Linked DNA regions of Homo sapiens: regions 1, 2 and 4 are each reported to be linked to region 3. Evidence: microRNA targets listed by miRTarBase, many of them from high-throughput screens and not tested one by one. Region 3 holds a microRNA gene; each other region holds the end of a gene's coding sequence.

Evidence for each region. Region 3 holds the annotated microRNA hsa-miR-3937 (ACAGGCGGCUGUAGCAAUGGGGG, at 4,444-4,466, opposite strand). A microRNA usually pairs through its seed, bases 2 to 8, with sites in the 3' UTR of a target mRNA and lowers its output. Matches are read on the target gene's strand: a 7mer-m8 pairs with bases 2 to 8, a 7mer-A1 pairs with bases 2 to 7 and ends in A, and an 8mer does both.
Region 1: the mRNA of ZNF532 is a reported target of hsa-miR-3937. Seed matches in the 3' UTR shown: 7mer-m8 at 3,418-3,424.
Region 2: the mRNA of PCSK4 is a reported target of hsa-miR-3937. Seed matches in the 3' UTR shown: 7mer-m8 at 625-631.
Region 4: miRTarBase lists YKT6 as a target of hsa-miR-3937. Seed matches in the 3' UTR shown: 8mer at 5,369-5,376.

Annotation. Positions count from the first base shown.
Region 1 is chr18:58,982,118-58,990,337 of GRCh38, forward strand. ZNF532 (zinc finger protein 532) reads left to right here. Exons shown (of 10, transcript NM_001375912.1): 10 at 1,855-4,363. The coding sequence ends at 2,349. Among named protein-coding and RNA genes, the nearest start is that of ZNF532, 120 kb to the left of the region's middle. RefSeq lists an enhancer at 1,493-2,692.
Region 2 is chr19:1,475,559-1,482,353 of GRCh38, reverse strand. It overlaps PCSK4 (proprotein convertase subtilisin/kexin type 4), which reads left to right. Exons shown (of 15, transcript NM_017573.5): 14 at 1; 15 at 147-926. The coding sequence ends at 595. C19orf25 (chromosome 19 open reading frame 25) reads left to right here and starts at 3,139. Exons shown (of 3, transcript NM_152482.3): 1 at 3,139-3,191; 2 at 3,449-3,580. The coding sequence starts at 3,451. RefSeq lists enhancers at 1-130, 2,973-3,092, 3,454-3,954 and a silencer at 3,313-3,362.
Region 3 is chrX:39,657,522-39,665,741 of GRCh38, reverse strand. MIR3937 (microRNA 3937) reads right to left here and starts at 4,526; the gene lies at 4,421-4,526.
Region 4 is chr7:44,210,410-44,218,629 of GRCh38, reverse strand. YKT6 (YKT6 vesicular SNARE protein) reads right to left here. Exons shown (of 7, transcript NM_006555.4): 6 at 7,506-7,607; 7 at 4,336-6,383. The coding sequence ends at 6,348. CAMK2B (calcium/calmodulin dependent protein kinase II beta) reads left to right here. Exons shown (of 24, transcript NM_001220.5): 24 at 1-1,476. Among named protein-coding and RNA genes, the nearest start is that of YKT6, 14 kb to the right of the region's middle. RefSeq lists a silencer at 18-330 and enhancers at 71-616, 617-1,164, 3,574-4,489.

The sequences.
Region 1 (8,220 bases), not on the chromosome of region 3:
TGAAACCCCATCTCTACTAAAAAAATACAATACAAAAATTAGCCAGGCATGATGGCAGGCGCCTTAATCCCAGCTACTTGGGAGGCTGAGGCAGGAGAATCGTTTGAACCCAGGAGGCAGAGGTTGCAGTAAGCCGAGATAAAGCCATTGCACCCAAACCTGGGGGACAAGAGCAGGACTTTTTTTGTTTTTTTGAGAGAAAAGTTTAAAGAAATAGTTTAGGCCGGACACAGTGGCTCATGCCTGTAATCCCAGCACTTTGGGAAGCTGAGGCGGGCAGATCACTTGAGGCTAGGAGTTCGAGACCAGCCTGGCCAACGTGGTGAAACCCCGTCTCTACTAAAAGTACAAAAATTAGCCAGGCGTGGTGGTGCACACCTGTAATCTCCAGCTACTCAGGAGGCTGAGGCAGGAGAATTGCTGGAACCTGGGAAGCAGAGGTTGCAGTGTGCCAAGATCACGCCACTGCACTTTAGTCTAGGCAATAGAACGAGACTCTGTCTCCACCCCCCCAAAAAAAGTTAGCAGATACTTAAAAAGCCCTCCTGTCTTCGGTGCTATGCTAGATCTGGAATGTACCCAGGTAAAAGCTTGTATGTGCTTTCAAGGAGTTAATCATCGAGTAAAACCTCCTCAGAATATAAGTCAGACTGATGTGGCATTAAAATGCAATACTTCAAGTGCTCCTGGTGGTGAGTTAAAGAATATGTGTGAAGCCAAGGCGTGGTGGCTCACACCTGTAATCCCAGCACTTTGGGAGGCCAAGGCAGGCAGTCACGAGGTCAGGAGTTCGAGACCAGCCTGGCCAATATGGTGAAACCCTGTCTCTACTAAAAATACAAAAATTAGCTGGACATCGTGGTGCACACGTATAGTCCCAGCTACTTGGGAGGCTGAGACAGGAGAATCGCTTGAACCCGGGAGGCCGAGGCTGTAGTGAGCCGAGATCATGCCATTGCACTCCAGCCTGGGCAATAGCGCGAGACTCCGTCTTAAAAAAAAAGAAAGTGTGTGCAAAGGTAGCTTCAGGTCATGGCCACGTGTGAAGGTGCACATGAACAGAGCAGAAAAGCTGGGGCACAGAGTGCGGAGAGGAGGGGCACGTTGGCTTGGGGAGGGGATTCAGAGTGGGATTTAGAGCCCTGGAAGCAGACGCAGTAGGGGAAATGGTGTGAAGGTGAGGAGGCAGGAAAGGGTGGGGAAAGCTTCCAGAGGCTCTCAGTCTAAAAGCAAAATCCTGACACTCTCTCCCACAAGGGGCGTTACAGTTCACCTCCTGCAGTCTCCCTGAGCACTCCTTCCTACTGGCTCTAGCCCCTCTTCTGTTGCCCACTCACAGGCCTGTTCCCACCTTGGGCCTTGGCACTCACAGCTTCCTATGCCTGGACTGCTTTCCCGACACTGCGTCAGGTCTCTTTTCAAATGTCACCTGTCACCAGGCTGTCCCTGACCGTACCACATCACCTAGCAGCCACACATATACCCCCCCCTTGCTTCCCATGGCCCTCATCCCACCCTGCTTGGCTGTCCTGGGTCTGACATACTGCATATTTTCTCATTTGTTTCTGTTCATCTAACTCCGCTGCCACAAATTTCAGGAAGCTAGGAGCTCATTTGTCCACTGTTGTGCCCCACTGGCAGAGCAATGCCTGCTAACAGCTACTAGGTTTCTCTGTGGAGTGGAAGAAAGGCATGGGCCTCCGGGTGGGGTGGCAGACACAGCTTTAAAGCCCCTAAATCCCAAAGCGTTCAGCACAAGTTTTCCTGGCAGCTCTAAAGTAAGAGAACCGATCATTTATCAACCACCGTGAAGGATGGTTTTCAGTCGTGTCATTTGCTTTCTTTCCCTGAAAGGTCCCCAGTCCCAAGCGGAAGTTGGAAGAACCAGTTCTGGAGTTCAGGCCTCCCCGAGGAGCAATCACTCAACCACTGAAAAAGCTGAAAATCAATGTTTTTAAGGTTCACAAGTGTGCCGTGTGTGGCTTCACCACCGAAAACCTGCTGCAATTCCACGAACACATCCCTCAGCACAAATCGGATGGTTCTTCCTACCAGTGCCGGGAGTGTGGCCTCTGCTACACGTCTCACGTCTCTCTGTCCAGGCACCTCTTCATCGTACACAAGTTAAAGGAACCTCAGCCAGTGTCCAAGCAAAATGGGGCTGGGGAAGATAACCAACAGGAGAACAAACCCAGCCACGAGGATGAATCCCCTGATGGCGCCGTGTCAGACAGAAAGTGCAAAGTGTGCGCAAAAACTTTTGAAACTGAAGCTGCCTTAAATACTCACATGCGGACACACGGCATGGCCTTCATCAAATCCAAAAGGATGAGCTCAGCCGAGAAATAGCCACAGATGCTCCATGAGGAAAATCCCTGTCCACATTGGAATAAAAAAGACATTTTTGTTACAAAGTTTGCAGTATAATAGAGTTAACAGTACTGTCTAGGCTGTTGCAATATATTCTCTTTCAATGTACCTTCCTTCACCTCGTCGTATATATCCTCGATAAGTATTAAAACAGTATTTGAGTTTAAAAGAGTTTGTATATATTTAAATGAATAACTTTTTATACTCTTTGTTACATGTTTGTATCAGTATTTAGTGGAAAACCATTTGAGTTGTTTTGGGTTAGAATTTTTCTTTTTGTACTGTTTCTTTAAAACAGAGTTCTTAGTAACAGGGGCAGTTCCTGAATTCAAATAAACCATTTTGTATGTTTGGATTTTGAATGGGTTAACTAATTACAGGCTAAAATAATGCCTTTTTTAGTGTTTTTAATTTTTAGAATTCACTACATAAATTGTAAGTAATTGTGGGTCTCAAAAACACTAGGAACTTTTAAGTGTCTTAGCACTTCCTCGATGTGCCTGCCCTGAGGGAGTGAGTTCACATTTGAGACAACTGCACTCCAGTGTGGACGTGCCTTTGTCTTCAGGCCATGCCGAAGGGTGTTTAAAGCAGTCTTGCAGGTCGCTCCTTTCCCAGCCGTGGATAAAAACTGAAGCTAGGAATCTAATAAGGAATGCTGATTTCCTCAGTTCCATTTTGAGGAATGGGGAAGGCTATTCTAAAGAAAAAAATGGGATTTGTTTTCTCGGCAGATCTGCAAGGCTGGCTTTAAGAGCACAAGGAGGGAAAGTAACGAAAGGGCTGGACTACTATAAAAGTTACAAATACGTAGTTAGACCAATAGATTTATATAGTCAGGTTTTTGTCATGTAATTTATTAACTAACTATTACAGAAACACAGCTAAGAATATCAAGTATTTCTCTGGCTCTTGACAGAAAAAAATCAGTTGACTTAACCCTTTGCTGTCAAAAGAGTTGGCGTTTCCTGTTCTGGGTGCTACTGCCAAACGTTATGGTACTTAGAGTCGGGATGCACAACTTCAACCACCGACTTATCAATGCAGCCGCCTGTGTATTGCAATTGGCCGTTACCTTAAGCACTGAGCCACCCGGGTTTAGTTCAGCCATTTCAAGAAGTATATTTAACGTCGGTAGTTCTGCTTTATTAAAATGCAGCAGAGGTACTCTTCTGTCCCTTCCGTTTATAGTTCTCTGAGAGAGTTCTATTTTTTGGTTTTGTTTTGTGTTTTCTTTTGCATTTTGTATCTTGTATTTATCCCTGAACATGTTTTGTACCTTTTTTTTTTTTTTTTTTAAGAAAAGGAATTCTTTTGTGTATATATAGATACTTGCATGATATACTGTAGTCAATGTTCGGTTCCTCAAAAGGTCTTGCTGCTGTCAGGTGTTATGCACTCCATCCATCATAACTGTATGAAACACATTTCATATGTAAATAAACGTGGGACATTTGGCCCTTGTGCTTCTGTGAGAGAATTATTGATGGTGGGTCTCTGACATCTTTGTGAAGTTTGGGAAGTAATTAATTGCAGCGACAAGCTACAGGGTGTTGCAGAATTCTTCCCACTCAGAAGAATGGCATATTCGTTCTCATTAGTAATCAGCTATTTTGTCACTTTCTTGTTGACTCCATCAGTACATGGGTACAATCCGAGGGTGTGAATTTCAGCTTGAAATTCCATTGCTGTTCCTTGTTTTGTTTGTATTGCTCTAAGTTGTATTCATAATAGCACTTTCATATGTTTCTGCATTTGAACCTTGCAATAAGCCTGTGTGGTAGGCCACATAGGTCCGAATAACCTAGTTTTACAGTTGAGGGAGCTGAGCTCAGATTCAGTTCTTTGCCGAAGCCCTCATAGCTGGTAAGTGGCTTTGCATATTAGAACCCAAATATTTTGCTCTCTAAATCTAATGCTCGCTCTATGTGGTTATGTACATATTGACAAATATTCATTTATTCAACAAATAAAAAGTATGTACAAAACATGATACAGAATTTTTGTTTTTGGCACTATGGCTTTATAAATAACCTGAAAGTCTTTCTACTCTTAAATACCCAGAGATGCTTAATATAAAATTAACACCTGGTAAATGCATAGGTGAGAATACAAGAAAATTTTAAAAAATGCCCAGAGGTCCAAAATGAAGAAACCAAAATCTAGATTCTAGAAAAACACTACACAGTGCTGTAACCCTGGGGGAAAACCTGGATTGTTCAGCTGAAGAGGAAATTGGTAAACTGGAAGATAGCCCTTGAGAAAATTAGCCTCAGCACAGAGATAAAGTGATGTTTCCAATACGAAAGAGAGGTTAGGAATCAAGGACAAAATGAGAAGATCCAGCTTCAGTTTAATGGAAGTTCCAGAAAGGGGGACTAGAGAGAACTGGGAAGGTCAGTGTAGAAAATCTTAGCCATTAATGAAAGACATTAATACTTGGATCAACAGTGAATGCTCAACAAAAATCATGCTGGGACATAAATTCTGCCCATTCTTCATTAGTTGTAGATGCTGGGTGTGGGCATTTGAGGAGGAGGATAACATGAGGTATGCTTAATTCTTAGGAAGTCCATGTACTCTTGAGTGCAGAAGTGAGAGCTAAGCCTGGAAGCAAAGGCTTAGGCCAAGTTGTAAAAACCCTTGAATGAGGCTGGGTACGGTGGCTCACGCCTGTAATCCCCATATTTTGGGAGGCCGAGGTGGGTGGTTCACGTGAGGCCAGGAGTTCACAACCAGCCTGGCCAACATAGTGAAACCTCATCTCTATTAAAAATATAAAAAATCAGCTGGGCGCAGTGGCAGGTGCCTGTAATCCCAGCTACTCCAAGACTGAGGCAGGAGAATCACTTGAACCTGGGAGGCGGAGGTTGCAGTGAGGGGAGATGGTGCCACTGCACTCCAGCCTGGGCAACAAGAACAAAACTCCATCTCAAAAACAACAACAACAAAAAAACCTTGAATGATAGAATGAAGGGGTTTGTATTGATAGAGATAGTCATTTGGACAGGGGAGTGATAGGACCAGATTAATTGGTGGCAGTGTTTAGGATGGAGTATATCAATCAGGATAGGTCGGGTTATGCTGTGGTTATGACCTTAAGCCTAAATAGCTTATCACAAGACATTTCTTGTTCACATTCAGTGTCCACTGTGGGTTGGCTGGAGGCATGGCTCCGTATCTCCTTGTCCCATTACCCCACTATCAAAAAGTTGCCAGTTGCTGTGGCAGAGGGAAAATGCAATGAAATGCTGAGGCCCAGAAGTGACAGATGCCACTTCTCACAAGTCACTGGCCAAAACCAGTCATACGGAGCCACCTAGTCACAAGGAGGCTGGGAAGTGCAATCCTCCCACGTGCCCAGGAGGCTGAAAATATTTGGACATCACAGGAATAACGTTTAAATTGGCATAGCTATGGTGCCAACACAGTAGGAACACTTGACCTAGGGTGGTGGGAGTAGGCTTGGAAAGAGGCTTCGGTTGTAAGTAGCATTTCAGAAACAGTTTCCAGAGGGTTTCTTAATGTGGAATACAGAGAAAGTCTGATCTGAAAGTTCAAGCTTATGTGATTCCTTACATTTTTTCTCAAGGTTTAGGTTACTTAAAAATATGGAAGTAGGCCGGGAATGGTGGCTCACACCTATAATCCCAGCACTTTGGGAGGCCAAGGCAGGTGGATCACCTGAGATCAGGAGTTCGAGACCAGCCTGCCCAACATGGTGAAATCCTGTCTCTACTGAAAATGCAAATGAGCCAGGCATGGTGGCACCCACCTCTAGTCCCAGCTACTCAGGAGGCTTAAACCCAGGAGGCAGAGGTTGCAGTGAGCTGAGATGGTGCCACTGCACTTCAGCCTGGATGACAGAGCAAGGCTCTATCTCCAAAAAAGAAAATTTTATATATATATAATATATAGTACATATATATATAATACATATGTAATATATAATACATATATAAAATATATAATACATACATAAAATATATAATACATATATAATACATACTTTATATATATGTAAAAATTAAGAGTTGATTACCAGGAAGATGATCTTAAGTTTCAGGTATACATACAAATTATGCTTTTGTTTTTATGTGTTTGGGTGATATATCAATAGCTGAGTAACAAATGCATACAAAAGAATGCCAGCAAAACGTTACTTGCAAAATGAGAAAAAGGAAAATGTAGGCTTACACTGCATGGCAAAGACCACTTCCTTCCTCCCAAGCACGTTTTCTGCAAATTCCTTACTCCTACCACAGCAAGTAGTCCAAAGAACAGCTGTTCTACCCTGAAGCTCTGGTGGGCATGCCTCACCAGTGTCAGCAGGCTAGTGAGTTTCCATCCTAGGATCTTTGACCAACAGTGAAATTTCCTCTTGAAATTTTTGGGCAGCCAAGAAATTTATAAAATATGACTCAGAGGAACCCTTCATCTATCCCAAAGGATAGTCTGAAAATAAAAAGTAATGTGCCAAATGTAGGATGCTATTTGTGCAATTTACACACACACGCATGCACACACACGCACACACACACGCTTTGCAAATATCAGATGCTGTAAGGATTCCAGATTGTAGCTCTTAATTTTAACATACATCTTCTAAACAAAGAACCTACCCTTAATTACCTTAAAAACTTGGCTCCTACTCAAGAGGTGTAACTCACTCTGCTTAAATGCATCCTTGAAACTTCTTGTTTTCTTTGACAATTTTTGTTTTTCTTTTCTCAGTTATGAATCTCACACCCTTACCGAGTTAGCTGTAAGCCTTTGGAATATGACAATGTGAATGTCTTTCTTTATAAAGATCATGATAACCAGAAAACAATCTATAGTAGATGCACAGAACATAAATAGAAAGGATTATTCATAACATCCCACTACAGCAGTCAAACCACAAACCATCCAGCAAGACAGGGAGAAACAAAATACATCCCCAACAACCAGAAAACAAATTACAAAATGGCAGTAATAAGTTCTCACCTGTCAGTAGTTACTTTGAATGTAAATGGGTTAAATTTTCTAATATGAGGACAGAGTGGCTGAATGGATTAAAAAAAAGACCTAAGTACCCGACTGTATGCTGCCTACAAGAGACTCAACTCTCTTAAGGATGCACATAGACTGAAAATGAAGGAATGAGAAGATACTGTATGCAAATGGAACCAGAAGAGAGCAGAGGGTAGCTATACCTACATCAGACAAAGCAACTTTAAGTCAGAAGCAATAAAAGAGACAAAGGACATTATATAACAATGAAAGGGTCAATTCATCAAGAGGATACAATAATTATAAATGTATCCAACATTGAATGAAGCACCTAAATATATAAAGCAAATATTAATAGATCTGAAGGGAGATAGAAACTATAATACAATAATAGTAGGGGACATCAATACCCCACTTTCAATAATGGATTACCATCCAGACAGAAAATTAATAAGGAAACATTGGACTTGAACTACACTTTATGACCTGACAGACATATACAGAACATCCCATCCAACAGCAACAGGATACACATTTTTCTCAAGTACACACAGAACTTTCTCCAGGATGGATCATATGTTTGGCTGCAATACAAATCTAAACAAATTTCAGGGGATCAAAATTACCTTAAGTATCTTTTCTGACCACAATGGTGTGAAACTTGAAATCAGTAACAGGAGAAATCTTGGAAAATTCACAAATAAGTAGAAATTAAACAACATGGGTCAAAGAAGAAATAAAAAAGAAAATCAAAAAAATCTTGAGACAAATAGCAACTATGTACCAAACACCTATGGGATGCAGCAGAAGCCATTCCAAGAGGGAAATTTATAGCAAGAAATGCCCATATTTCTGTGA
Region 2 (6,795 bases), not on the chromosome of region 3:
GGTGAGTGCCGGCGGGGCAGGGCCCACTGCTGGGAGGCGGTGGCGGCCACCGTGGGCAGCGTGCATGTGGCCCCAGGCGGGCGGGTGGCGAGTAACAGGCTGCGGGTGGCAAGCTGACGGGCCTTTGCGTGCGTGTCCCCGAGCAGCGTGTGACGGCCCCGCCTACATCCTGGGACAGCTCTGCCTGGCCTACTGCCCCCCGCGGTTCTTCAACCACACAAGGCTGGTGACCGCTGGGCCTGGGCACACGGCGGCGCCCGCGCTGAGGGTCTGCTCCAGCTGCCATGCCTCCTGCTACACCTGCCGCGGCGGCTCCCCGAGGGACTGCACCTCCTGTCCCCCATCCTCCACGCTGGACCAGCAGCAGGGCTCCTGCATGGGACCCACCACCCCCGACAGCCGCCCCCGGCTTAGAGCTGCCGCCTGTCCCCACCACCGCTGCCCAGCCTCGGCCATGGTGCTGAGCCTCCTGGCCGTGACCCTCGGAGGCCCCGTCCTCTGCGGCATGTCCATGGACCTCCCACTATACGCCTGGCTCTCCCGTGCCAGGGCCACCCCCACCAAACCCCAGGTCTGGCTGCCAGCTGGAACCTGAAGTTGTCAGCTCAGAAAGCGACCTTGCCCCCGCCTGGGTCCCTGACAGGCACTGCTGCCATGCTGCCTCCCCAGGCTGGCCCCAGAGGAGCGAGCACCAGCACCCGACGCCTGGCCTGCCAGGGATGGGCCCCGTGGAACCCCGAAGCCTGGCGGGAGAGAGAGAGAGAGAAGTCTCCTCTGCATTTTGGGTTTGGGCGGGAGTGGGCTGGGGGGAGAGGCTGGAGCACCCCAAAAGCCAGGGGAAAGTGGAGGGAGAGAAACGTGACACTGTCCGCCTCGGGCACCGCGTCCAACCTCAGAGTTTGCAAATAAAGGTTGCTTAGAAGGTGCTCAGTCTGTGGCCTCCTCTGGAGCAGGGTGGGCCCGAGGCCCCAGGGCTCAGGTGGTTTCTGCTTGGGGTCCCCGGACATCAGTCCATGGAGAATGCAGCCGGCCACGGAGAAAGAGTCCGCCCAGGCCCAGGGACCCCAGGCAGTGGGAACAGCAGGGAATGGCCGGGGGTCAGCAGTAATGTCCAGCCCCAGAACATGGCTCACCATGGCCCAGAATCCTCTCCTGCGGTGATTCCTTTGTTTTTTTTCTTGTTTGTTTTGAGACAGGGTCTCCCTACGTTGACTAGGCTAGAGTACAGTGGTGCGATTGTAGCTCACTGCAGCCTTGAACCCTGGCCTCAAGCAATCTTCCCTCCTTGGCCTCCCAAAGTGCTGGGATTACAGGCGTGAGCCACTGTGCCTGGCCCTTTCCTCCCTCCCTCCCTTCCTTCCTTTTCTTTACTTCCTTCCTTCTTTCCTTCCTTTCTTCCTTCTCTTTCCTTCCTTTTTTAGTAGAGATGGGTTTCACCATGTTGGCCAGGATGGTCTCGATCTCCTGACCTCGTGATTCGCCCACCTCGGCCTCCCAAAGTGCTGGGATTACAGGCTTGAGCCACCGCACCTGGCCCCTTCCTTCCTTTCCTTTTCTTTCTTTCTTTCCTTCTTTCTCTTTCCTTTTTCTTTCTTCCTCTTTCTTTTCTTTTTCTTTCTCTCTCGCCTTCCTTTCTTCCGTTCTTCCTTCTCTTTCCTTCCTTTCCTTTCTTTTCTCCCTTTTCTTCTTTACTTTCTTCTCTTTATTTCCTTTTTCTTTTTTTTCTTTCTCTCTCTCCTTCCTTCCTTTTTCTTCTCCTTCCTTCTTTCCTTTCTTTCTCTTTCTTTCCTTTTCCCTCTCTCTGTCCCTTCCTTCCTTCCTTCTCTCTCAACAATATTTTTTTTTTTGAGACAGAGTCTTGCTCTGTCGCCCAGGCTGGAGTGCAGTGGCACGATCTCGGCTCACTGCAAGCTCTGCCTCTCGGGTTCATGCCATTCTCCTGCCCCAGCCTCCTGAGTAGCTGGGACTACAGGCAACCGCCACCATGCCTGGTTAATTTTGTTTTTCTTTTTGTATTTTTAGTAGAGACAGGGTTTCACCATGTTAGCCAGGATGGTCTTGATCTCCTGACCTCGTGATCCACCCACCTCGGCCTCCCAAAGCGCTGGGATTACAGGCGTGAGCCAACACACCCAGCCTAATTTTTGTATTTTTAGTAGAGACGGGGTCTCACCATGTTGGCCAGGCTGGTCTCAAACTGGCCTCAAGTGATCTGCCCGCCTCGGCCTCCCAAAGTGCTGGGATTACAGGCATGAGCCACCGCGCCCAGGCTGAATTTACAGTTTAAACAGGCGAATTTGGCCGGGCGCGGTGGCTCACGCCCGTAATCCCAGCACTTTGGGAGGCTGAGGCGGGCGGATTGCCTGAGCTCAGGAGTTTGACACCAGCCTGGGCAACACAGTGAAGCCCCATCTCTACTAAAATACAAAAAAAAATTTTGACGGACGTGGTGGCGGGCGCCTGTAGTCCCAGCTACTCGGGAGGCTGAGGCAGGAGAATTGCTTGAACTCGGGAGGCGGAGGTTGCAGTGAGCTGAGATCACGCCACTGCACTCCGGCCTGGGCGACACAGTGAGACTCTGTCTCTAAAAAAACAAAACAAAACGAAATAAACAGGAGAACTTTATGGTATGTAAACTGCATCTCAATAAAGCCCCTGAGAGAGGAAAAGGGCCCTCTGCTCTTTCTGCCTTCCCAGGCATCAGCGGAGAGGAAAAGGTGACCTCCAGCACCGTCCCCGAGGTGGGAGGACCCGCCTTGGCCGGAAGTGGAGGCGCCGCGACCGCCCCGCCCCCGCTGTGTTCCGGCCGCCGAGTGCTCATGCACCACCAGGCTCCCTTAGGTGGACAGCAATTTTGTGCTCCCGTCAGCCACATGGGTGGCGTGTCCCCTAGTGCCGTGTTCCCCTTTTCAGAAAGACGAGCCTCGGATGCTTTTCTACCCAGCCAGTGGAGCCTGGACTCGAACTCGCTCTCATCGTAGCGCGTCCAGGTTCGGGTTCGCCTGAGAGGCTGAGATCCGAGTCTCAAGGGCACTATCCCTTTAAGACGGGGCGGAGCCCCGCGATGAGCGGCGGGCCGGCGGGAGAGGAGGCCGGAAGTGTGTGTCACGTGTTCGGGGACGGGGCGGTGCTCCGACCGGAATCGGAAGTGGCTGCGTCGTCGACGCTGGGCTTTCGGGTCCCGCGCCCAGGTGGGAAGAGGCCGGCGACTGGGGTGACCGCGGGGAAACTGAGGCAGAGGTTGAGCCAGACCCTGAAGCCTTGGCCACCGTGTTTTTGGGCGGAGGGAGGGTCAGGGCCTGGGGCGAGCTCAGAGGGGCGGGACAGGGCGGGCTTCCCCGGGAGCGGGACCGCGACGGGTGCGTACGAGTTCGCTGGGCGGGAGGAGCAGCCCGGGCAAGGGCGGAGAGGTGGACGCCCCGGTCAGCGCCCCCTTCCCCGCCTTCAGAGATGGGCTCCAAGGCAAAGAAGCGCGTGCTGCTGCCCACCCGCCCAGCGCCCCCCACGGTGGAGCAGATCCTGGAGGATGTGCGGGGTGCGCCGGCAGAGGATCCAGTGTTCACCATCCTGGCCCCGGAAGGTAGGGGGAGCCCGGTCCCGGGGAAAAGCGGACCTGAGACCCCGGCAGCAAGGGGACGGGAGAGAAGCACACCCCTAACTCCTGACCCCACGCCCTGGGAACCCCCGCAACATGGGCACGGTCCGTATCCTCTCCGAGTCTCCCTCTACTCCTCCGTAGAGTGGGACCGATTTTCAGAGGGTTCTTCTGACAGGGGTGGAGGCCGGGCGCTGTGGTTCAGGCCTGTAAGCCCAGCACTTTCGGAGGATGAGGCGGGAGGATCGCTTGAGCCCAGGAGTTCGAGACCAGCCTGGCCAACATGGTGAAACCCCGTCTCTGCTAAAAATGAAAAAACAAAACAAAAACAAAAACAAAAACAAAACAGAGTTAGCTGGGCATAGTGGCAGGCGCCTGTAATCTCAGCTACTCGGGAGGCTGAGGCAGGAGAATCGCTTGAACCCGGGATGCAGAGTTTGCAGTGAGCCGAGATCGCACCACTGCACTCCAGCCCAGGTGACAGTGCGAGACTGTCTCAAAAAAAAAAAAAAATTACTGGGTGTGGTGGTGGACACTTGTAGCCCCAGCTTCTTGGAGGCTAAAGTGGGAGGATACAGCCTAGGCAACACAGCCAGACTGTGTCTCAAAAATAAATAAGTGGCCGGTGCGGTGGCTCACGCCTATAATCCCAGCACTTTGGGAGGCCGAGGTGGGTGGATCACTTGAGGTCAGAGGTTGGACACCAGCCTGGCCAACATGGTGGAACCTTGTCTCTACTAAAAATACAAAAATTAGCCGGGTGTGGTGGCATGGGCCTGTAATCCCAGCCACTCAGGAGACTGAGGCAGGAGAATCACTTGAACCTGGGAGTCGGAGGTTGCAGTGAGCTGAGATCACGCAACTGCACTCCAGCCTGGACCACAGTGAGACTCTGTTTCAATAATTATAATAATAATTAATAAATAGAAATAAATAAAGTAAAACAGAGGTGGTAAGCTAGGGCCCCCCAAACCCTGCCCCTGGCTGTTTTTTTAAGGTCTGGGAGCTATGAATGGACTTCACATTTTTAAATGGGGGTGGGTGAAAAAGAACATTTCTGACACCTGAAAGAGGTATGAAATTCAGATTTCAGTGTTGGTAAGTAAAGGTTTACGGCACACAGCCAAATGATTCACATACGGTTAGTGGCTGCTCTCACACCAGAAGGGCAGAGTTGAGTAGTGGGAGCAGAGACTCCAGCCTTTGGCAGGAAAGCTTGTCCACTCCTGATTTACGAGGTGGAAGCTAGTCAGAGACCAAAGGATTCAGCAGTGCAGTTGGGTGAATTTTGTGTTCTGGATGAGGCTCATTCATTCATTCAACAATCCTTTTCTTGAGCACTTCCTGTGTGCTGGGCTCTGCGCTTAGAGCACTGCTAATGGACAAGTGAACAAAAGAAACAAGAATGTCTGCCCCAGGCTGTTCTGGGGCTGGCGGGAAACAAATGAAGATGAATCGGCCAGGTGCGGTGGCTCACACCTGTAATCCCAGCACTTTGGGTGGCTGAGGTGGGCGGATCATTTGAGGTCAGGAGTTCAAGGCCACCCTGGCCAACATGGTGAAACCCCGTCTCTACTGAGAATACAAAAACATTAGCTGGGCATGGTGGCGCATGCCTGTAATCCCTGCTACTTGGGAGGCTGAGGCAGGAGAATTGCTTGAACCCAGGAGGCGGAGGTTGCAGTGAGCTGAGATCGTGCCACTGTACTCCAGCCTGGGTGACAGAGCAAGACTCTATCTCAAACAAAAAAAAAAAAGAAAAAAGAAAATGAGCCATGTGGAATGATAGAAACTGTGAATTTCTAAGGGAACATTTTTAAAAAGTAATATTAGAAAATTCTGGGGCCAGGTGCAGTGGCTCATGCCTGTAATCCCAGGACTTTGGGAGGCTGAGGCAGGAGGATGACTTGAGGCCAGGAGTTCAAGACCAGCCTTGGCAGCATAGCAAAACCTATATCTACCAAAAATACACAAACTAGCTGGGTGTGGTGGCATGCACCTGTGGTCTTAGCTACTCAGGAGGCTGAGGCAGGAGGGTTGCTTGCGCCCAGGAGTTGGAGTCTCCAGCCTGAGTGACAGAGTGAGACCCTGTCTCTGAAAAAGAAAAAAAGAGAAAAATTGAGTTGTGTTTTCCCTTTAGACATATTTCAAGTGCCCAGGAGCCACACATGGCTGGTGGCTGGTGTGGACCAGCATCGGTGGGAGGTGTGCGCATCATCTGGAAGGTTCTGTGGGCCGGTACTGGTCAAGGTGCATGAGTTGGTTTTATTCCCAGCATGCAGTTCGGTCACCTGAGGGTGCTGGGGCCGTGGTTTGAGCTTCATGGGCTCAGGTCCATGGCCGTTGAGTGTGGCGAAACTGAGGCACGCTGTGCGGGGGACGGGGGGCGCTCACAGAAGGTAGGGGGCCTCCTGTGCCTTCATCCAGGCACTGCCCGGCCTTTCCCACCCTGTTGCTAAAGCAGGTGATGACAGAGGTGATTTGATCAGCCCAGACCCGTGCGGCACGTGGAGCCTTCGTCCGTGGGAGACCACACTGCCGAGGGGCAGGCCAGAGCCGAGGGGCCCCTGACGCTTCTCTGAGTGACCCTGAAGTCGGTGCTGCTTCAGCCCTGCTGCACTGGGCTTGCATACGTGGGGGAGCAGGGAGCCATACGTAGTTTCTGCTGAATGTGGGAGTCACCAGGACGTCAATGCCCACCTCTCACCTTCGCCACCCCTGCCTCCCTAAGTGTGTGCTCCAGGAGGTTGCACGGCCCCTGGAGAGGTTTTCGGTGGCGGGCTTGTTGCGTCTCTGGCTTCCAGAGACAGCAGGAATGAGAGCCAGGCCAGCTCAGTGGAGTCCATCCCGGTGGGTGCCACGGCTTTTGCAGGAATGGAAGCCCCGCCCCCAGGAGGGCCACTGCTGGCGAGGCTTGAGCTCTTTCTGTGACCCGATCCCCCTGGTCACACGCTTTGCTAAGGCGGGTAGCCTAGAGCTGGAAGCCCCTCCTGCCACCCAGCCACTGTGCCTCTCCCAGCTGATGGACGAGGAAGCCTCCATTACTTGATTTTTGTTTTTATTTATTTTTGAGACAGGGTCTCATTCTGTCACCCAGGCTGGAGTACCGTGGCACGATCATAGCTTATTGCAGCCTCGGCCTCCCAGTCTCAAGCGATCCTCCTGCCTCTGCCTCCAGAGAAGTAGGGACCACAGATGCG
Region 3 (8,220 bases):
TCTGAATCAGGTATTTTCCAACTAGATACTTACATCTGAACTTGCCTTTCCTACTTATATCATCCTAGCAACAAACATGAGGATAAAGCCATGATCAACTTTACGGCTGAAAGAAGGCACATTTATTGGGTATAGAGGTTTTGTTAAGGCAATTCAAGTTAACACGACTGCTCCTTAAATTACCAAAAACATATAAAAAGGGGAATTTTGTTAATGTTAAGAAAATGAAATAAGTGGTGACCAGTGAGATAAAGGAACTCATAATTGAAGGAATACCCTCTTAGTCATTGTGGATGATGTCAAAGTGGCATACTTATGTAGTTAAAAGAAAAGAACTCAAAAGTGGATTAAATAATACTTGAAGAACCTATTTCTTGAAGGGTACTTTATAGACATTATCTTCTAATTCTAACCTCAACCCTTTTGTGATGGTTAATTTTTGGTGTCAACCTAACTACTTTCAGAGATACTTACAAAGCTGGTAAGGCACTATTTTTGAGTGTTTCTATGAGGGTGTTTCTGGAGGAGATGGGCATGTGAACGATGAACTGAGTGGGAAAGATCTGTCCTCAACATGGACAGGCACCATCCAATCAGCTGGGGACCCAGATGGAATAAAAAGGCAGAGGAAAGGTGAATTTGCCCCATCTCTCTCCTGGAATTGGAAACACCCTTCTTCTTCTACCCTTGGACATAAGAACTCCAGGCTCTCTGACCTTTGGACCCCAGGACTTGCACCAGTGGCCTCCCCTATTCAGGCCTTAGGCCTTGGACTGAGAGTTATACCATCAGCTTCCCTAGTTCTCAGGCCTTTGGACTTGGACTGAGCCATGTTACTAGCCTCCCTTGTTCTCCAGCTTGCAGATGGCCTATCATGCGATTTTGCTTCCTCCATAATTGTGTGAGCCAATTCCCCTAATAAATATCTTCTTATCTATCTATCTATCTATCTATCTATCTATCTATCTATCTATCTACGTATCTATCTGTCTGTCTATCTATCTATGTATCCTTTTGGTTCTGTCTTTCTGCAGAACCCTGACTAATATACAGTTAAAATAGGTATCATCATCCTCAGTTTACAGATGGGGAAATTGAGGCTCAGATAGAACTAATTGCCCAAGGACACCCAGCTGGGAAGCAAAACAGAGCCATGTCTTCCTGAATCCAAAGCCCATATATGTTTTTCTCATACTCAGAATTACCTCTCTGGTTAATGACTTAATAGTACTACTGAAATATAAAGGCAAGAGTATTTTTAGGTAGAGACCAACAGAAGAGATACTAAGACAGAGTTCTAATTATGAAGGAACAATTCCATTCAGCAGGCCAAACATTCTGCCAGGAGTTTTACTATCGCATATAGTGAAACTTAGGGCAGTGGCTAGCCCTTATGATTGCAATGTTTAAAAATATGTGCACAAATGTAAACCAGTACATTTATCTGTCAGAGATACTTAAGTAAAGAATATCAGTATCACGGCCAGAAATCTCAGAAACTGGTGGATTTCATATTTGCTTATATAAATACATTTTTGCTTCTAGTTCTGGAAATACTGTGATCAAGATAACCTGAAAACCCATTTTCCTCAGTTATCTAGAAATAAACGAATATTTATTTGAATGAATAGATGAGCACACAGGAAATTGACGGGCTGTGAATGAAAAAGGTACTGAAAACTAGGGCAGTGAGCTTGTGAATGATTATGTGACTGTTTTAGGGTGGGGACACATGGGGAGAGACAATGATTCTGTACTCTAGGTCCTTAGACCATTTAATGTCCACTTGAGGTCGTGGGAGGGGTGGGTGGGGGGGTGACAAAGAGTTGATGCTTTGGGTCCCTGTAAGGCAAAAAAGTTGGACATGTGATACATACATTCTGTAAAAGTGGAAACCTCTGTGTGAGGGTAGATTAGAAAAAAATCTGCCCATTGACCCAGAGGGGTTTGTCTGTCATGGTCTAGGCTCCAAGTGGGAAAAAAAAATGTCTCCTGAGAAATTTTTGAACTATATCTTATGAGGGTTTGGAATTAAATATATATTCCTTATGTGGTGCTGGAGCCCCAAGCTCAGAAATTTTATTTTATTTATTTATTTATTTTTGAGACAGAGTCTTGCTCTGTCGCCCAGGCTGGAGTGCAGTGGCACAATCTCGGCTCACTGCAACCTCTGCCTCCCAGGTTCAAGTAATTCTCTGCCTCAGCTTCCCGAGTAGCTGGGATTACAGGCACCCACCACCATGCCCAGCTAATTTTTGTATTTTTAGTAGAGACAGGGTTTCGCCATCTTGGCCAGGCTGGTCTTGAACTCCTGACCTCGTGATCCACCCGCCTTGGCCTCCCAAAGTGCTGGGATTACAGGTGTGAGCCACCGTGCCCAGCCATAAATTATTATAAAAATGATAGTGAAACCTCTGGACAGCTTGGCAAAAACAAAAACGAAACTTCACAGGAGACCCCATTAATCAGGCCTCACAAAATTCCTACACATAAAGCCGTGTTTATGATGAGCTCACAATTCAAAAATATAAAACAGTTGAAAAAAGATTTCACTATGAGCAAGAGACAGCAGGATTAGACACTCAAGAACTTCAGATAATGAAACAATCTATTAGAGACCATAAAATTTGCTTTTTTTTTTTTTTTTTTTTGAGGCAGGGGCTCACTGTCACCCAGGGTGGAGTGCAGTGGCTCAATCATGGCTCACTGCAGGCTCGACTCCCCCAGCTCAAGCAATCCTCCTGCCTCATTTTTAAAAATTTTTTTTGTAGAGATGGGGGTCTCCTTTTGTTGCCCAGGTTGGTCTTGAACTCCTGGGCTCAAGCAATCCACCCGCCTTGGCTTCCCAGAGTGTTGGGATTATAGGTGTGAGCCACCATGCCTGGCCCATAATTAGCATGTTTAAGATGATTAAAAGCTTATGTTTTTAAACAATGAAAACATAAAGGAAAAAACAGACACTATGAAAAGGAACATGCATGTATATTTTTAAAAGAAACTAAATTGAACTTCTAGAAATAAAAAAATATAGTCACTGAGGTTGGGCATGGTGGCTCACACCTATATTCCTGGAGCGTTGGGAAGCTGAGATGGGAAGACTGCTTGAAGCCAGAAGTTTGAGACAAGTGTGGGCAACATAGCAAGACCCTGTCTCTACAATAAATAAATAAATAAATAAATAAATAAATAAATAAATAAATAAATTAGCTGAGTGTGGTAGTGTGAGTCTGTAGTCCTAGCTACTTAGAAAGCTGAGGCAAGAGGACAGCTTGAGCCCAGGAGCTTGAGGCTGCAATGAGATGTGATTGCACCACTACACTTCAAGCTGGGCAGCAGAGCAAGACTCTGTCTCAAAACAAAACAAAACAAAAAAAAGAAATGTCAAAAAACAAAACACACACACACACACACACACACACACACACACACACACACACACACAGAGTCATTGAAATAAAAAATCTCAGTATATAAGTTAAACAGAAATTATTGAACCAGAGAGTGATGTCAAAGAATTACCCAGAATGCAGCACAGAGAAACAAAGAAAAGGGAGGTGAAAGGATATGGAGAATAGAATAAAAAATTCTCATATATAACTAATTGGAGCTCCAGAGGGAAAGCATAAAGACAATGTGGGAGAAGAAATGTTCAATGACATAATAGCTAGGAATTTTTCAGAATTTATGATACATAGATTCAGAATCCTCAGCAGGATAGATTTCATAACTTAGTATGCATATTGCTCTATAAAAAGGTAAAAGTGAGCTGGGAGTGGGGGCTTATGCCTGTAATCCCAGCACTTTGGGAGACTGAGGCAGGAGGATTGCTTGAGCTCAGGAGTTCAAGATCAGCTTGGGCAACATAGGGAGACCTTGTCTCTACAAACAACAAAACAAAACAAAACAACAAAAAACTAGTCTGGCGTGGTGGCCTGTGCCTGTGGTCCCAGCTACTCAGGAGGCTGAGGTGGGAGGATTGCTTGAGCTCAGGAGTTTGAGGTTGCAGTAAGGTATAATCTTGCCACTGCACTCCAACCTGGGTGACAGAGTGACACCCTGTTGCTAAAAGATAAGTAAATAAACAAAAAGGTAACAGACACCATTCTACCAAGTACATTCATATCAATCCAGAGCAAAATTCTAGGGACATCAACACAGTAGCAGTGTGGGTAGAAACGAGAAGGATGCTAGAACATGCTATATAGTACTTTTCTTGTTCTAAGGCAAATGTATCTATTTCAGTTGTTATGTCCATATAAAAATTACTCTAAAATTTAGTGGCTTAAAATAACCACAATCATTTTATTATCTCTCATGATTTCTGTGGGTCAGGAATTCTGGAAGGGCTTAACTGAGTGGTTCTGGCTTGGAGTCTCTCATGTGGTTACAATTAGACTGTGGCTGAAGCAATGTGGGAGAAGCACATTGAGATGCCCATCCAGCCCCCCATTGCTACAGCCGCCTGTTGTTGTCGAGCTGAAACAACAGGGAACTGTAGCAACTGAGGGCTGGTTGGGCATTCTTCTCTCTTCACACGGTCTCAGGGCCTCTCTAATTGGCCTCTCTACGTGGGCTATTTGGGCTATTTATAGCATGGCAGCCTCAGGATAGTTGGACTTTAAAAATGGTGGTTCAGGGCTCCAGCACCAATGATCCAACAAGCAAGGTAGAAGTTGTGTCGCCTTTTTGGACCTAGCCTTGGAAGTCATTGAGTGTCACTTACAATGCATTCAAGTTACACTCAAATCACAAGTCTGCCCAGAGTTAAGGCAGAGGATATAGACCCTCCACCCCTAACTCTGTCTGGATGGGAGGAGTGTCAATATGCCATTGTAGAATACGATTGTGGGACATAGAATAGTATTGACACGGGGGATATTGCTGGGACCATCTTTGGAAAATACGAGCTGCCACAGTATAGGTATTGATAAGTTTAACAAATTGATTGACGGTATAGGTAATCACCAGAAGAATAAACTTAGAATTTGTAGCTTATAAACTAGCAGAGAGACATTTGATATTGTCAATAGTCTGAAAAAAAGAAAACAAAAAGAAATTACAGTTAGTAGAAAATGGGAAATAAGATGGCAAAATGAATTCCTAATGGTAGTTACAACAAATATAAGTGAGCCAAACTCACCTATCAGGACCCAGACTGCTATTGTCTACTTTCAGCTATTTTATATTATTATTATTTTTTGCTCTGTTGGGCAGGCTGGAGTGCAATGGTGCAATCACGGCTCACTGTACCCTCAAAGCCTCACTGTACTTCCCAGGCTCAAGTTATCCTCCCACCTCAGCTTCCCAAGTAGCTGTGTCTACAGGCACACACCACCACATCTGGCTAATATTTTTTTGTAGAGATGGGGTCTCGCTACATTGTCTATACTGATCTCAAACTCCTGGGCTCAAGGAATCCTCCTACCTAGGCCTCTCAAAATTGCTGGGATTACAGGCATGAACCACCATGTCCTTGATCTATTTTGTATTCTTAAAACTAAGGAATACAGAATAGCTGAAATTAAATGAATGGAAAAAGATATATCAGGAAATATAAATTAAATAAAGCTGGGGCAGCAATTTTAATATCAGACAAAACAGCATTAAAAACTACAGATATCATAAAGGACAAAGGGGAATCATACATACGGAGAAAAGGAATAATAGTTCTAGAATATATAACAATTATGAAAGCACATTTATTCATGTAGATATATTTGAGACAGAGACTCACTCTGTCACCCAGGTTGGAGTGCGGTGGCGCCATCTCAGCTCACTGCAACCTATGCCTCCTGGGCTCAAGCCATTCTCCCACCTCAGCCTCCTGAGGAGCTGGGACTACAGGTGTGCACCACCACACCCAGCTAATTTCTTTTTGTTGTATTTTTTGTAGAGATGGGGTTTTGCCATGTTGTCCAGGCTGGTCTCCAACTTTTGAGCTCAAGGGATTTGCCTGCCTCAGCCTCCAAAGCGCTGGGATTACAGGCGTGAGCCACTGCACCCGGCCAGTAAAATATATTGAATGCCTATAATATTCTAGGCATTGCTCTAGGTTTGAAGGAGATAGCAGAGACCAAAACAGACAGAAATACTTATCTTCATTAGAATTTACATTCTATACAATTATCAACACAACCTCAAGTATTTAAAACAACAATGGACAGAACTAGAGAATAAAATAGATAAACCAGGAAGTGTAGGTGGAGATGTTAAGATTCCTGCCTCTGAAACTGATGAATAAAGGAGACAAAAAATAAAGCTATTGAAGATTTGCACCACACAATTAATAAACTTTAACTAGCGGATATGAATAGAATCTGACATTCAACCAACAGATTACATATTCTTTTTGAATGCACATGGCACTTTTACAAAATTAGAGAAAGGAACTTACCAAAAAGGCAATCTAAATACATTCCAAAGACTCAATGTCATTCAGGGCTGGGACCCTTTTTCCCCCCCGAGATGGAGTTGCGCTCTTGTTGCCCAGGCTGGAGTGCAATGGCGTGATCTCGGCTCACCACAACCTCTGCCTCCCGGGTTCAAGTGATTCTCCTGCTTCACCCTTCCCAAGTAGCTGGGAATACAGGCATGTGCCATCACGCCCAGCTAATTTTGTATGTTTAGTAGAGACGGGGTTTCTCCATGATGGTCAGGCTGGTCTCGAACTCCCAACTTTAGGTGATCCGCCCGCCTCGGCCTCCCAAAGTGCTGGGCTTACAGGCGTGAGCCACCGCGCGCCCGGCCTGCTGGGACTCATTTTTTATTTCAGCCTGGGGACACTTCTCTATAAGAACTTTTCAAAGGCAGAGCAGAAGGTTGAATTATTCTGTTCTCTGCAATAATCTACTTACCACAAGCAAAAGCAAAACCCAAACAGCAATAACCATGGCCTACAGCAAAGAACAAGGCTGTCCCTATTTTTTTTTTTAATGAAACTATCTTCTGTTGGCAGGGTCTGCCCCTGGTTCTCTTCAGCTCTGTTCTTGCCTTTGTTCTGAGTTTCTCCCCGGGAGAAACAAAATGGCGCCCAGCCAGGAAGGAGAGAGGCTTTGCTCTCCTGAGCCCTGAGCAGGACTTCTACCCATAACTGGCTTTCAGAGTGGCTGTTTGGTATAGCAGGGTGATCATGGTGACAGTGAGAGTTTTCCTTGGCAGTGAGCTGAACTTACCCACTTGAGAACAAGGTCATCTGCTTTGTAAGCTGCCCTAGTTAGAGACCACCCCTCAACTGCCGGGTGTTAGGAGGAAATTCTGCCACTAGCTACTAAAGGCATCACCAGAACTTCACTAACAGAAATCAGAGACTTCTTAAACCAAAGCATCCTAACTTTTATTAGCAGGGAGGCTGTCTCCAGAAAGCCTTCTGGGTTTGACCCCTTCCTCAAAGTGTTGACATAAAAGTTCATCACTGTCATCAATGATTGTTCCACTTATGGCAAAATTTTAGACCTAAAATTCATCCCCCCAACCTCTTTTTTTTGTTGTTCTTTTTGAGACGGACTTTCCCTCTATCGCCAGGCTGGAGTGCAGTGGCACGATCTCGACTCAATGCAACCTCCACCTCCTGGGTTCAAGTGATTCTCATGCCTCAGCCTCCTGAGTAGCTGGGATTCCAGGCACGCGCCACCAGGCCCAGCTAAGTTTTTGTATTTTTAGTAGAGACAGGGTTTCACCATGTTGGCCAGGATGGTCTCCATCTCCTGACCTCATGATCCACCCGCCTTGGCCTCCCAAAGTGCTGGGATTACAGTAGTGAGCCAGCGCGCCCAACCACCTTGTAATTACCACTCAAGGGTTTAATTACAAATATTCTATCTCCACTCCCTAGATCCACTTTTGATAGATATTTTCAGGGCCAGGTCTGAGCATTTCTTTTTTCTTTCACCCGAATTTTTATTTTGGAAAAAAAAAATCACAAATAGATGCTCGTTTATGAAAACTTCAATTAGCAATGCCTCCTCCTCATGTTATTCTAAAACACACACACACACACACACACACACACACACACACACACACACACACAGCCCAACTCACTAAGCCAAAGCTGAGGCAGACAAGCATATTCAGAAATCTACAGGATGATTCTATGCTTATTCCAGGATAGTGGCCTTTCAGATGTAATTCTCAACTCTCACCCACATATTTAAAAAATAAATGAGTCTTTTGATTGGCATTTGGAGTATTGGAACCTGAACCTCAGCTTTATTTTGAAAG
Region 4 (8,220 bases), not on the chromosome of region 3:
CTGCCTGGGCTGGCCCCCCTCCTGTGTGAGGTGTCTGTCCCTTCTCTGCTGGCCAGCAGCAGATGCACTGGCAGCTCCCAACCCTGTTTCCGCCCCTCGGCCCTCCCCCAGCCTGTTCGGCTTCTCTGCAGCCCGCAAGGGGGAGCAGACTTTTGACAAAGGACTGCGGGCCTCGCTCAAGTCCCTGAGCCCCCAGCTGAAGCTGGGAGGGGAGGCCAGGCTTTGTGTCTGGGCATATTCGTCTGCTGATGGGGTTTGGGGAAGCCTGGGGCTTGGGGTTTGGTCGGGTGGTGCAGCTAGTGGCAGAGCGGGATCAGAGGTGGTGGCTGCCCAGCTTCTGGGCTGAGACAAGGGTCTGTGCAGGGGTTTACTGAAGTGGGAGTGCCTTTGGAATCTGGGCCGGGAGCAGAAGGGAGCAAAAGCTACAGTGGGAGCCAGCCTAGGGCACATGGGAGGCGTGAGGGCAGTGCTGCCCGTGCAGTGTCAGGTGTGCCAGTGCCTTGGCGGGCTGCAGTGCGTGTGAGGGCACCTTCTAGGTGGGCCAGGGATGCAGCTATGGAGATAAGGCGGGCTGGGGACAGAAACAGGTGGGCACAGGGCCCAGGACACCAGCGGATGGAGGGCAGGGTCTAGCCCTGTGCTCCTGAGCGTCGGCTGCCTGGGTTCGAGGCGGTGGGTCCCCGGCCCCTTGTGATGGTGTGTACCATGGGGGAGCTCGGGGACAGGGCAAGCCCGAGCATGGTGGGGCTGCAGGGTGGGTCTGAAGCCAGGTTGGGTGGGGGTGGTCACAAGCCCTGACTGCAGAGGGTCAGGGGCTCCTGCCCCAGTGCCTGCCCACTTTCAATTCACATTGTTTTCAACAAGGATTTTCTTTATCTTCCCCTACAAATCAAGCCAAGGGAGGGGCACAGAATGGGGAACAGGACACAGGATCCTAAACTCCAAGGGGACTGTCCACCGATGAACACTCAGAGTGGACACCATCTTCCGTCCACGCTGTGCCCAGGACAGCTGTCCCCATCCATGAACACAGGGTAAACATCTGCCGGGCTCCGCACCAGTGGCTCCCTGGGCCATGGGACAGCGGCAGGGCTCACCACGGACAGCACGTGGCCCAGCAGCCGGCCACCCTGGCGTCCTGGGGCCTCCTCCCCTCCTCTCCCTCTCACCTTGTCACCTCCACGGAGCTGCCTGTCTGGGATAATTTGGGGATTTTTTTTCTGGGGGATAATTCTTTTGCATGACCCCTAAAGAGCAAGCCACACCGGTCTGCTAGCTAGGTGTCCGCGGTGTGGTGGTGGCGGCCGCTGGCCAGCGCTGCAAGGGGTCGGCTGCCCACGGTGCTGGCTGGCCTCCCCTCCTCTCTCTTTTTGCTGAGTTTCATTGTCTTTTCTTTCTGAGCCTTGTAAGTGTACAAAAATTATTCTTATTTTGTTCTGTCTCGGGAAACTGCAAATAAAAGAAAAACAGGACAAACTGCTTCAAGTGCAGCTGGGTGCTTTAGCTGGAATCCTGCCGACCTCCTGCGCCAAAATACAGACTCAAGCCCGGTCCCTGGCCAAGACCCTACTTGGGCCCCTCCTCCAATGAAAGGTAGTGCTATGGGAGCCCTGAGCTGGCCCTGACAGTCCTGAGCCCCTCTAGGGTGAACGGCTCACCCCAGGTAGGGCACTAGTCATAGATCATAGCTCTACCAGCTGTCTCCACCTCTTCCTCTGGTCCTCTGAAGTCTTCTGGGCCCAGCGCTGTCCACCCTGAATGCTGGAACTGAAACTGGATCCCAGCCCCCAACACCCCTGACCTCTCCATTCACCCCCGGTGGCCGCTAAGGATGTGGCCAGGGCAGCCTCTGGGCAGGAAGGAGCCCCAGGACCAAGACCTCTGGCTGTCCTGCTGTTTCCTTCCGCCCCTGCTACATGTATTGGCTATTCTGGATGCTGAGGACACACAGTGACCACAGAGCCGGGCTCCACCCCAGTGGATTATGCAGACAGATGGCACGCAGGCCTGTGTGGACATCAGCCTCGGGCACCAGACATAGGCAAGGCGCAAGGTGATACAGTAGGCAGCCACCATGGGGGCCAGGAGGCTCCAGCAGAGGCCACACAACCAGCCCAGAATCCAGGACAGAGAGCTGGAATGGAGACAGGGAAGCCAGATACCAGGCCAGACTGGCCAGGTGCTACAGGCCTGTGGGCCAGGCCAGGCTTGGGGACTTCGTCCTGGGTGTGAAGGAGACAGGCACCCCTGAGGCCTTCCCTCTGCATCTCCAGCCCAAGCTAAGCGCAAACTCTTAGGTTGGAGTAAGGAGTAACCCCCTGCCAAGTTTCTCCTGTCCTCAGGCTCCACCCACCACCTATGCTGCCTGGCCCCATGGGGCACACGCTCAGGCCCAGCCTGGGAAAGCAACTGCACCTGCCTGTGCTATGCTGGCCCTTCTCAGCCTCAATGCCCTCCTCCCTCCCCGACGCACCCTCGTGGCCCCCGCTGGGCCCCCTGATGCACCCTCATGTCTCCATGGCAACCTGCTCAGAGTGTGGCCCTGCCCTTGGCTCCCCTCCACACCTGTGTCCCAGGCAGTGCCACGGCACTTTCCTAAACAGAAGGATGGGCTTCAAAACAGTCCCAGACACTAAACACACCTGCATTTTGGGTCCAAGTAACTTCTGACAAGACGAGTGCCCCTACACACTCTCAGTCCTATCCACTATGGGCAAGGAGCCTGAAGGATCCCCCAGAACTGGCTAAAGCCCTCAGTCTCCTCCTCCACCCTGAGCACCTTCACGCGGCAGAGTGGCCCTGGATGTCAGCTTCTTGCTCCCCATGGTCTGCACCTGGACAGGTGCTCTCAGGTGTGTGGGTGGGCAGGTGGCAGGTCCCAAGAGCCAGGTGCAAAGAATCTAGGCCAGTGCCCACGAGTGCTGCAGTGTCTGTCCCCAGCATGGTATCTAGGGCTCCACTTGCCTATCAGCTGTAATCGGAGGAGGCTTTCCAGGCCAGGCCTCCCCCAGGAAGGCTGCAGGCACTGCGGATCGTGCGCCCTCACATGCATTATTCCTGAGGCCCTTCTGCAGATGCCATCAGGGCAGCAACTCTGATGAGGTATTAGGGCACAGCACACAGGGCTAAGCCACCCTGTACTGGGCCAAGCGCTACAGGCAAAAAGGACACCACCGACGGGCATTTCATTCATCGCTTTTATTTTTATATATTTTTGAGAGGGAGCCTCACTCTGTCGCCCAGGCTGGAGTGCAGTGGCGCGATCTTGGCTCACTGCAACTTCTCCCTCCTGGGTTCAAGTGATTCTCCTGCCTCAGCCTCCCGAGTAGCTGAGATTACAGGTGCCCGCCACCATGCCCAGCTAACTTTTGTATTTTAGTAGACATGGGGTTTCACCATGTTGGTCAGGCTGGTCTCGAACTCCCGACCTCAAATGATCTGCCTACCTCAGCCTCCCAAAGTGCTGGGATTACAGGCATGAGCCACTGCACCCGGCCCATTCATCACTTTTAAATAGCACCCTCTGAACAAAGCTCCCTGGGCCACATGACCCTAAGGGTTACCCCATCCCACCCCAACCCAGGTCTGGCAGGTCCTCAGAACAGGAAAAGCTGAGCACTGCCCAAGGCTGCTTGCTGGGCCAGTCAGAGAGGTCTCTGCCTTCCAGGATCAGAAGTACAGGCTGAAAGCAGCCTTGGGCCCGCCTCCCTGGGAGGCTACAGAGGCTTCAGAGGGTTCCCTGAACTCAAAACCAGATGTGAGACTTGAATTTGACTTACCCCTGGTTCACCTCCCAACCAAAGCAGGGGTCAGCTTTGGCTCCTCCAGGAACCAGGAAGCTTCCAGGTACCCTGTGGAGCCCCCTCTGCTCCTGAAAAGTTGCCACCTGTGCTTGGTGGGATGCCAGGTGGTCTCAGATTGACCCTGGGGTCAGCGGTGAGGGACAGGAAGCCTACAGCGGGATCAGGATGGGGATGGGGCCTCCTGTCCCATGGCTCTGCAGCTATGAGGCAGCTTTCCTAGGGTGGGTCTCCTGGCTGCAGCTAAGACCAGGCAACAGGATTCAGCAATGACAGGGCTTCTTCTACTCCAGGGCTCCCTCACCTGGTTAACAGCAAAAAAGAAAATACAGTTCCTGCTAGCAAGGTCTATAGAAAGGAGGTGAAGGAGTCAGGCCTGCAGCTACCTCTCCTGGACAGGAGCTGGTCAGGATAACTTGGACCCTTGCATGCGGCAGGCCCACAGGCACACAGCATGAGGCCACTCTCTCCCCCGGGGGAAGGGCTTGGTGAAGAAAGGATTCCCCTGAAGCACAAAGAAAGCACAGGACCACTGTGAAATTTCAAGACAACTTTATCCAGACAGGCGCCTCTCAAATAGAACACAGGGAAGTTAGGCAGCAGTTACTAAAATACAGTCTCGCCAAATGATTTACAACAGAACACAACAGGAGCAGGGGATCTGTGGGTGGGGCTGGGCTGGGCCCTCTATCTCACAGGGCCTGAGTCAAGCCAGCCCGCCCTGCAAGGCAGGGGCTGACCTGCAAGCGGAGATCTCACTTCCTCTTACCCCAAATTCATACCTCCATTTTCCCCGCCCCCATCTCTCCCCAGGGTCCTCAAGTGGGAAAGGGAGAGGTAGCATCCCTCGGATCCAGGCCCACTCCACTCCGTCTCCGGCACCAGTGGGCAGGCTGAGTCTGGGCCTCAAGGGGCCCTGGGCTTAGGGTATCTATGGCAGTAGGAAAATGACATGGACAGGCTCTTCAGGGGTAGGCTAAAGTCCTCTGGCCAGCAGTACCCAGAGAAAATGGGCAGCAGCAGGTAAACCAGCCAGGAGGTGGAGTCCTCTGAACCCACAGCAGACCCCACCCTCCTGCCCAGCCCCTGCCCACATTGGGGGTCAGGACCACTGAGACTCTGGTCAGGACAGTGGGTGCTCTCAGCAGTGTGGCAAGCTCAGAGCAGAGCTCCCAAGGACCATACCACACTGGTTCAAAACCCATAGGTGACACCATCCCAGCAGAAGCTTCCATGGGTGCTGGATCCCAGGGCTGCATCCTGAGCACAGGTGGGCAGACTGGAACATAACACTAGGACCCAAGGGATCCAGAACATTTTAGGCCCATCTCCTGGGCTGCTCCAGCCTGTTGCCATGACTTGGGCAGTGAGTGGGCCTCCTGCCAGGTGGCAGGGCACAGCTTAGACCAAACCCTTGGCCTCCCCCCTCTGCAGCTACCTCTGACCAAGAAGGAACTAGCAAGCCTATGCTGGCAAGACCATAGGTGGGGTGCTGGGAATCCTCGGGGCCGGCTGGCACCCACTCCTGGTGCTCAAGGGAGAGACCCACTTGTTCAGATGCATAGGCCTCAGGCGGTTCAAGGCAGTCTTAGAGCCACAGAGTCAAATAAAAATCAATTTTGAGAGACCACAGCACCTGCTGCTTTGATCGTGATGTTCAAGGCAAGTTGCAAGTCAAGGCAAGTGTCCCAGAGGCCCTGGGCAGCTGAGTGCACCTGTGTTTGATCTTCCCCTGATGATGGACACTCCCAGCTGACCATCCAAACACCAGGAAAACATCCCCCTTTCCTGGGCTCAGTTCCTAGTCTACTTGCTGGTACGAACCCAACCCACACACTCCCCGCCCACAATGCAGCTCCTTCCAAATCCTCCCACAAGCCACCTTTGTGGGACTTGGAAGCTGCTTAGGATGGGCCCTGCCCTCTGCGGGAAGCCAATCCTAGCAGAAAGGTAAGCTAAACAACAGTCTCAGAATCTGAGACCCAGTGACTGTTCCCCCCGCCCCAGGCCTTGGGCCTGAAGTGGGGGCCTGCCTGTGGCCTCTGTGGTGGGCTCACTCCCACCCCCAACAGTGGCCCCAGGAGAGGCTTTCCCAAGAGTCTTCAAACTCCACCCACCCCAGCCCTAGCATCAGGGACTCCCCACCCCCCACTGGAGTGTTAATATCATTAATGTACAAATAAGATCCAAAGATATACCAAAGATCGAGAAACAGCTGGCTCCGACCTCCCTCCCACAGAGCCTTCCCAGGGTTAGCTGAAAAAGAGCCCTTTGGCATCTACAGAAGCCAGTCGGAGTTTATGGTTTCATTTGCCCAAAAATACACCTTTGGGGACCTCAAATTCTTTCCAAGAATCACTACCACACATATGAATTTGAACATTCGCCACCCTTCCACCATCCATTTCTCGCAGGAACTTCAAAATAAAAATGGCCAGTCTGCCCCCACTCTGGCTCCTCGTCTATGGCTGTCTCTTCTTTTCCAGGGGCTGCAGTTCTGATGTGAATGATGGTGCCATTCCAGCATTGGGCCTCTGGCAGGCTGCATCACATGATGGCACAGCATGAGTTTTGTTTCCGGGCCTTGGAAAAAAACAAAGAGGAGCTGAGAAGGAGGACTGACGAAGTAAGGGAAGCCCCAATCCTGGCAGGCGTGGCAGAGGGAGCTCCACAGGACACAGCCAGGCAGAGAAACTAGCACTAGAACAGGGTGGGGGTGGAGGCCTTGAGGGAAGCTGTCCACAAGCAATTCCCATCACCAAGCACAAGGCGGGCCCCGGCTTCCAAAACTAGTCTGGGATCCTTTTTCCTTTCTTTTCTCACACCCCATTAATGCTATCAAAAAGTGAGTAAAATTCCTACAGTTAGGCCAGGTACAAACAAAGGACCAATAATACAAATGGGATTGGCAGAATATCTTAACTTTGCCCCACTCCTGTCTTCACACAATGCTATCTGACCACCACGGTGGTGTTTCTTCCTAGAAGATGGTCCTGAGGACAACAGATGTGGTTCCCACTTGGGATGTGGTTTGTGGGGACCACTGTTGCCACCTTCTCTCTTGCTTTCTGGTCACAGACTATCTTCCTAATCCCACCTAGCCATCTCCCTCCAATGTGCACATGAAAGCAAATGTGTGTGGACAGACCAAGTAAATTTGTCCCTATGACTATCCAACCATGGGCCAACAGTGCCATCTCCACATAGGAAGACATGAGCACTGACCTGAGAGAAAGCGGCAGTCAGCAGCACCCATCCTTGTCAATTAAATATTTTCTGTCAAAGGGAAATTAAAAGCTTAAGAACCTCTTCAGGAAGGCTGAATTGCTTGCATCTTAAAGACTTATGTCTACTCAGCAGAAAGAGGAATAAGATTCAACAGTAAATCTCTGGTGATCAGAACTTGAACCAGCCTTCCTGGACTGGGAGTAGGAGTTCAGAAATCAGCCAGAGCAGCAGAGGGCAGAGCAGAGGCAGGAGTGGAACAAGGCCTCGGCCCGCATCGACTCCAACGGCGCCCAAGTGAACTGCCTCCAACCACCTGGGCCTGAGGCGCTCACCTTAGGCTCTTGCCGCACAAGGAATCATCCACCATGATTCAACAGTCTAAGAAAGACCCGTTCATAGTGGAGAGTGCCAGAAGCAGCAAGCTGCGACTGCTCTCTAGAGAGAACACCCAGGAGGCAGCAGGTGCTGGGTACTCACAGTTTTATAGAAGGCTTTAGACTGTGTTCCCAGCACCTCGGATTTGGACACCAAGTCATCTAGCTTCTCACCTCGCTCTAACAGAGACTCCATGGTGTTGTGCTGGACAAAAAAGAAAAGAGAATCCAGCTCTGTTCAGTACGTGCCCTGACATGAGCCCCTCATATTTCAGTCATGGGGGAAAGTGCCTTACCTGGGTTCCTCTCCAACACACACAAACTTCACCTCTAGGTGTCGAGACTCGGTCCAAGAATAGTTACTGTCCAAGTGGATGGAACAGAACCTGGTGACATTCCCGTGAAATCTAGAAGATCTAACTGGGATGTAGCAGACTTCCCAAAAAGCTGTCCCCAGCACAGGCTTAGATAACCAGCACTCCAGGAAAACTCATATATATATATACACACACATTTATATATACATTTGTGTGTGTGTGTGTGTGTGCACGCACATGTGCGTGTGCATGGAGCTTTGGAAAAAAGAGTAGCTGGGCACTATATGATTGTACTGGGTTGGAGAGTGACCCACACCGCACCCCCCAACCCCAACCGCATCCCAGAAATTAACATCCCCAGAATCTCTGAATGTGACCATATTTAGAAATAGGGTCTTGGCAGATGTAACTAGTTAGGAAGAGGTAATACTGGATTAGGGTGGCATCTAATTCCATGACTGATGTCCTGGTAAGAAACGGAAACACACACACAGAAGGTCA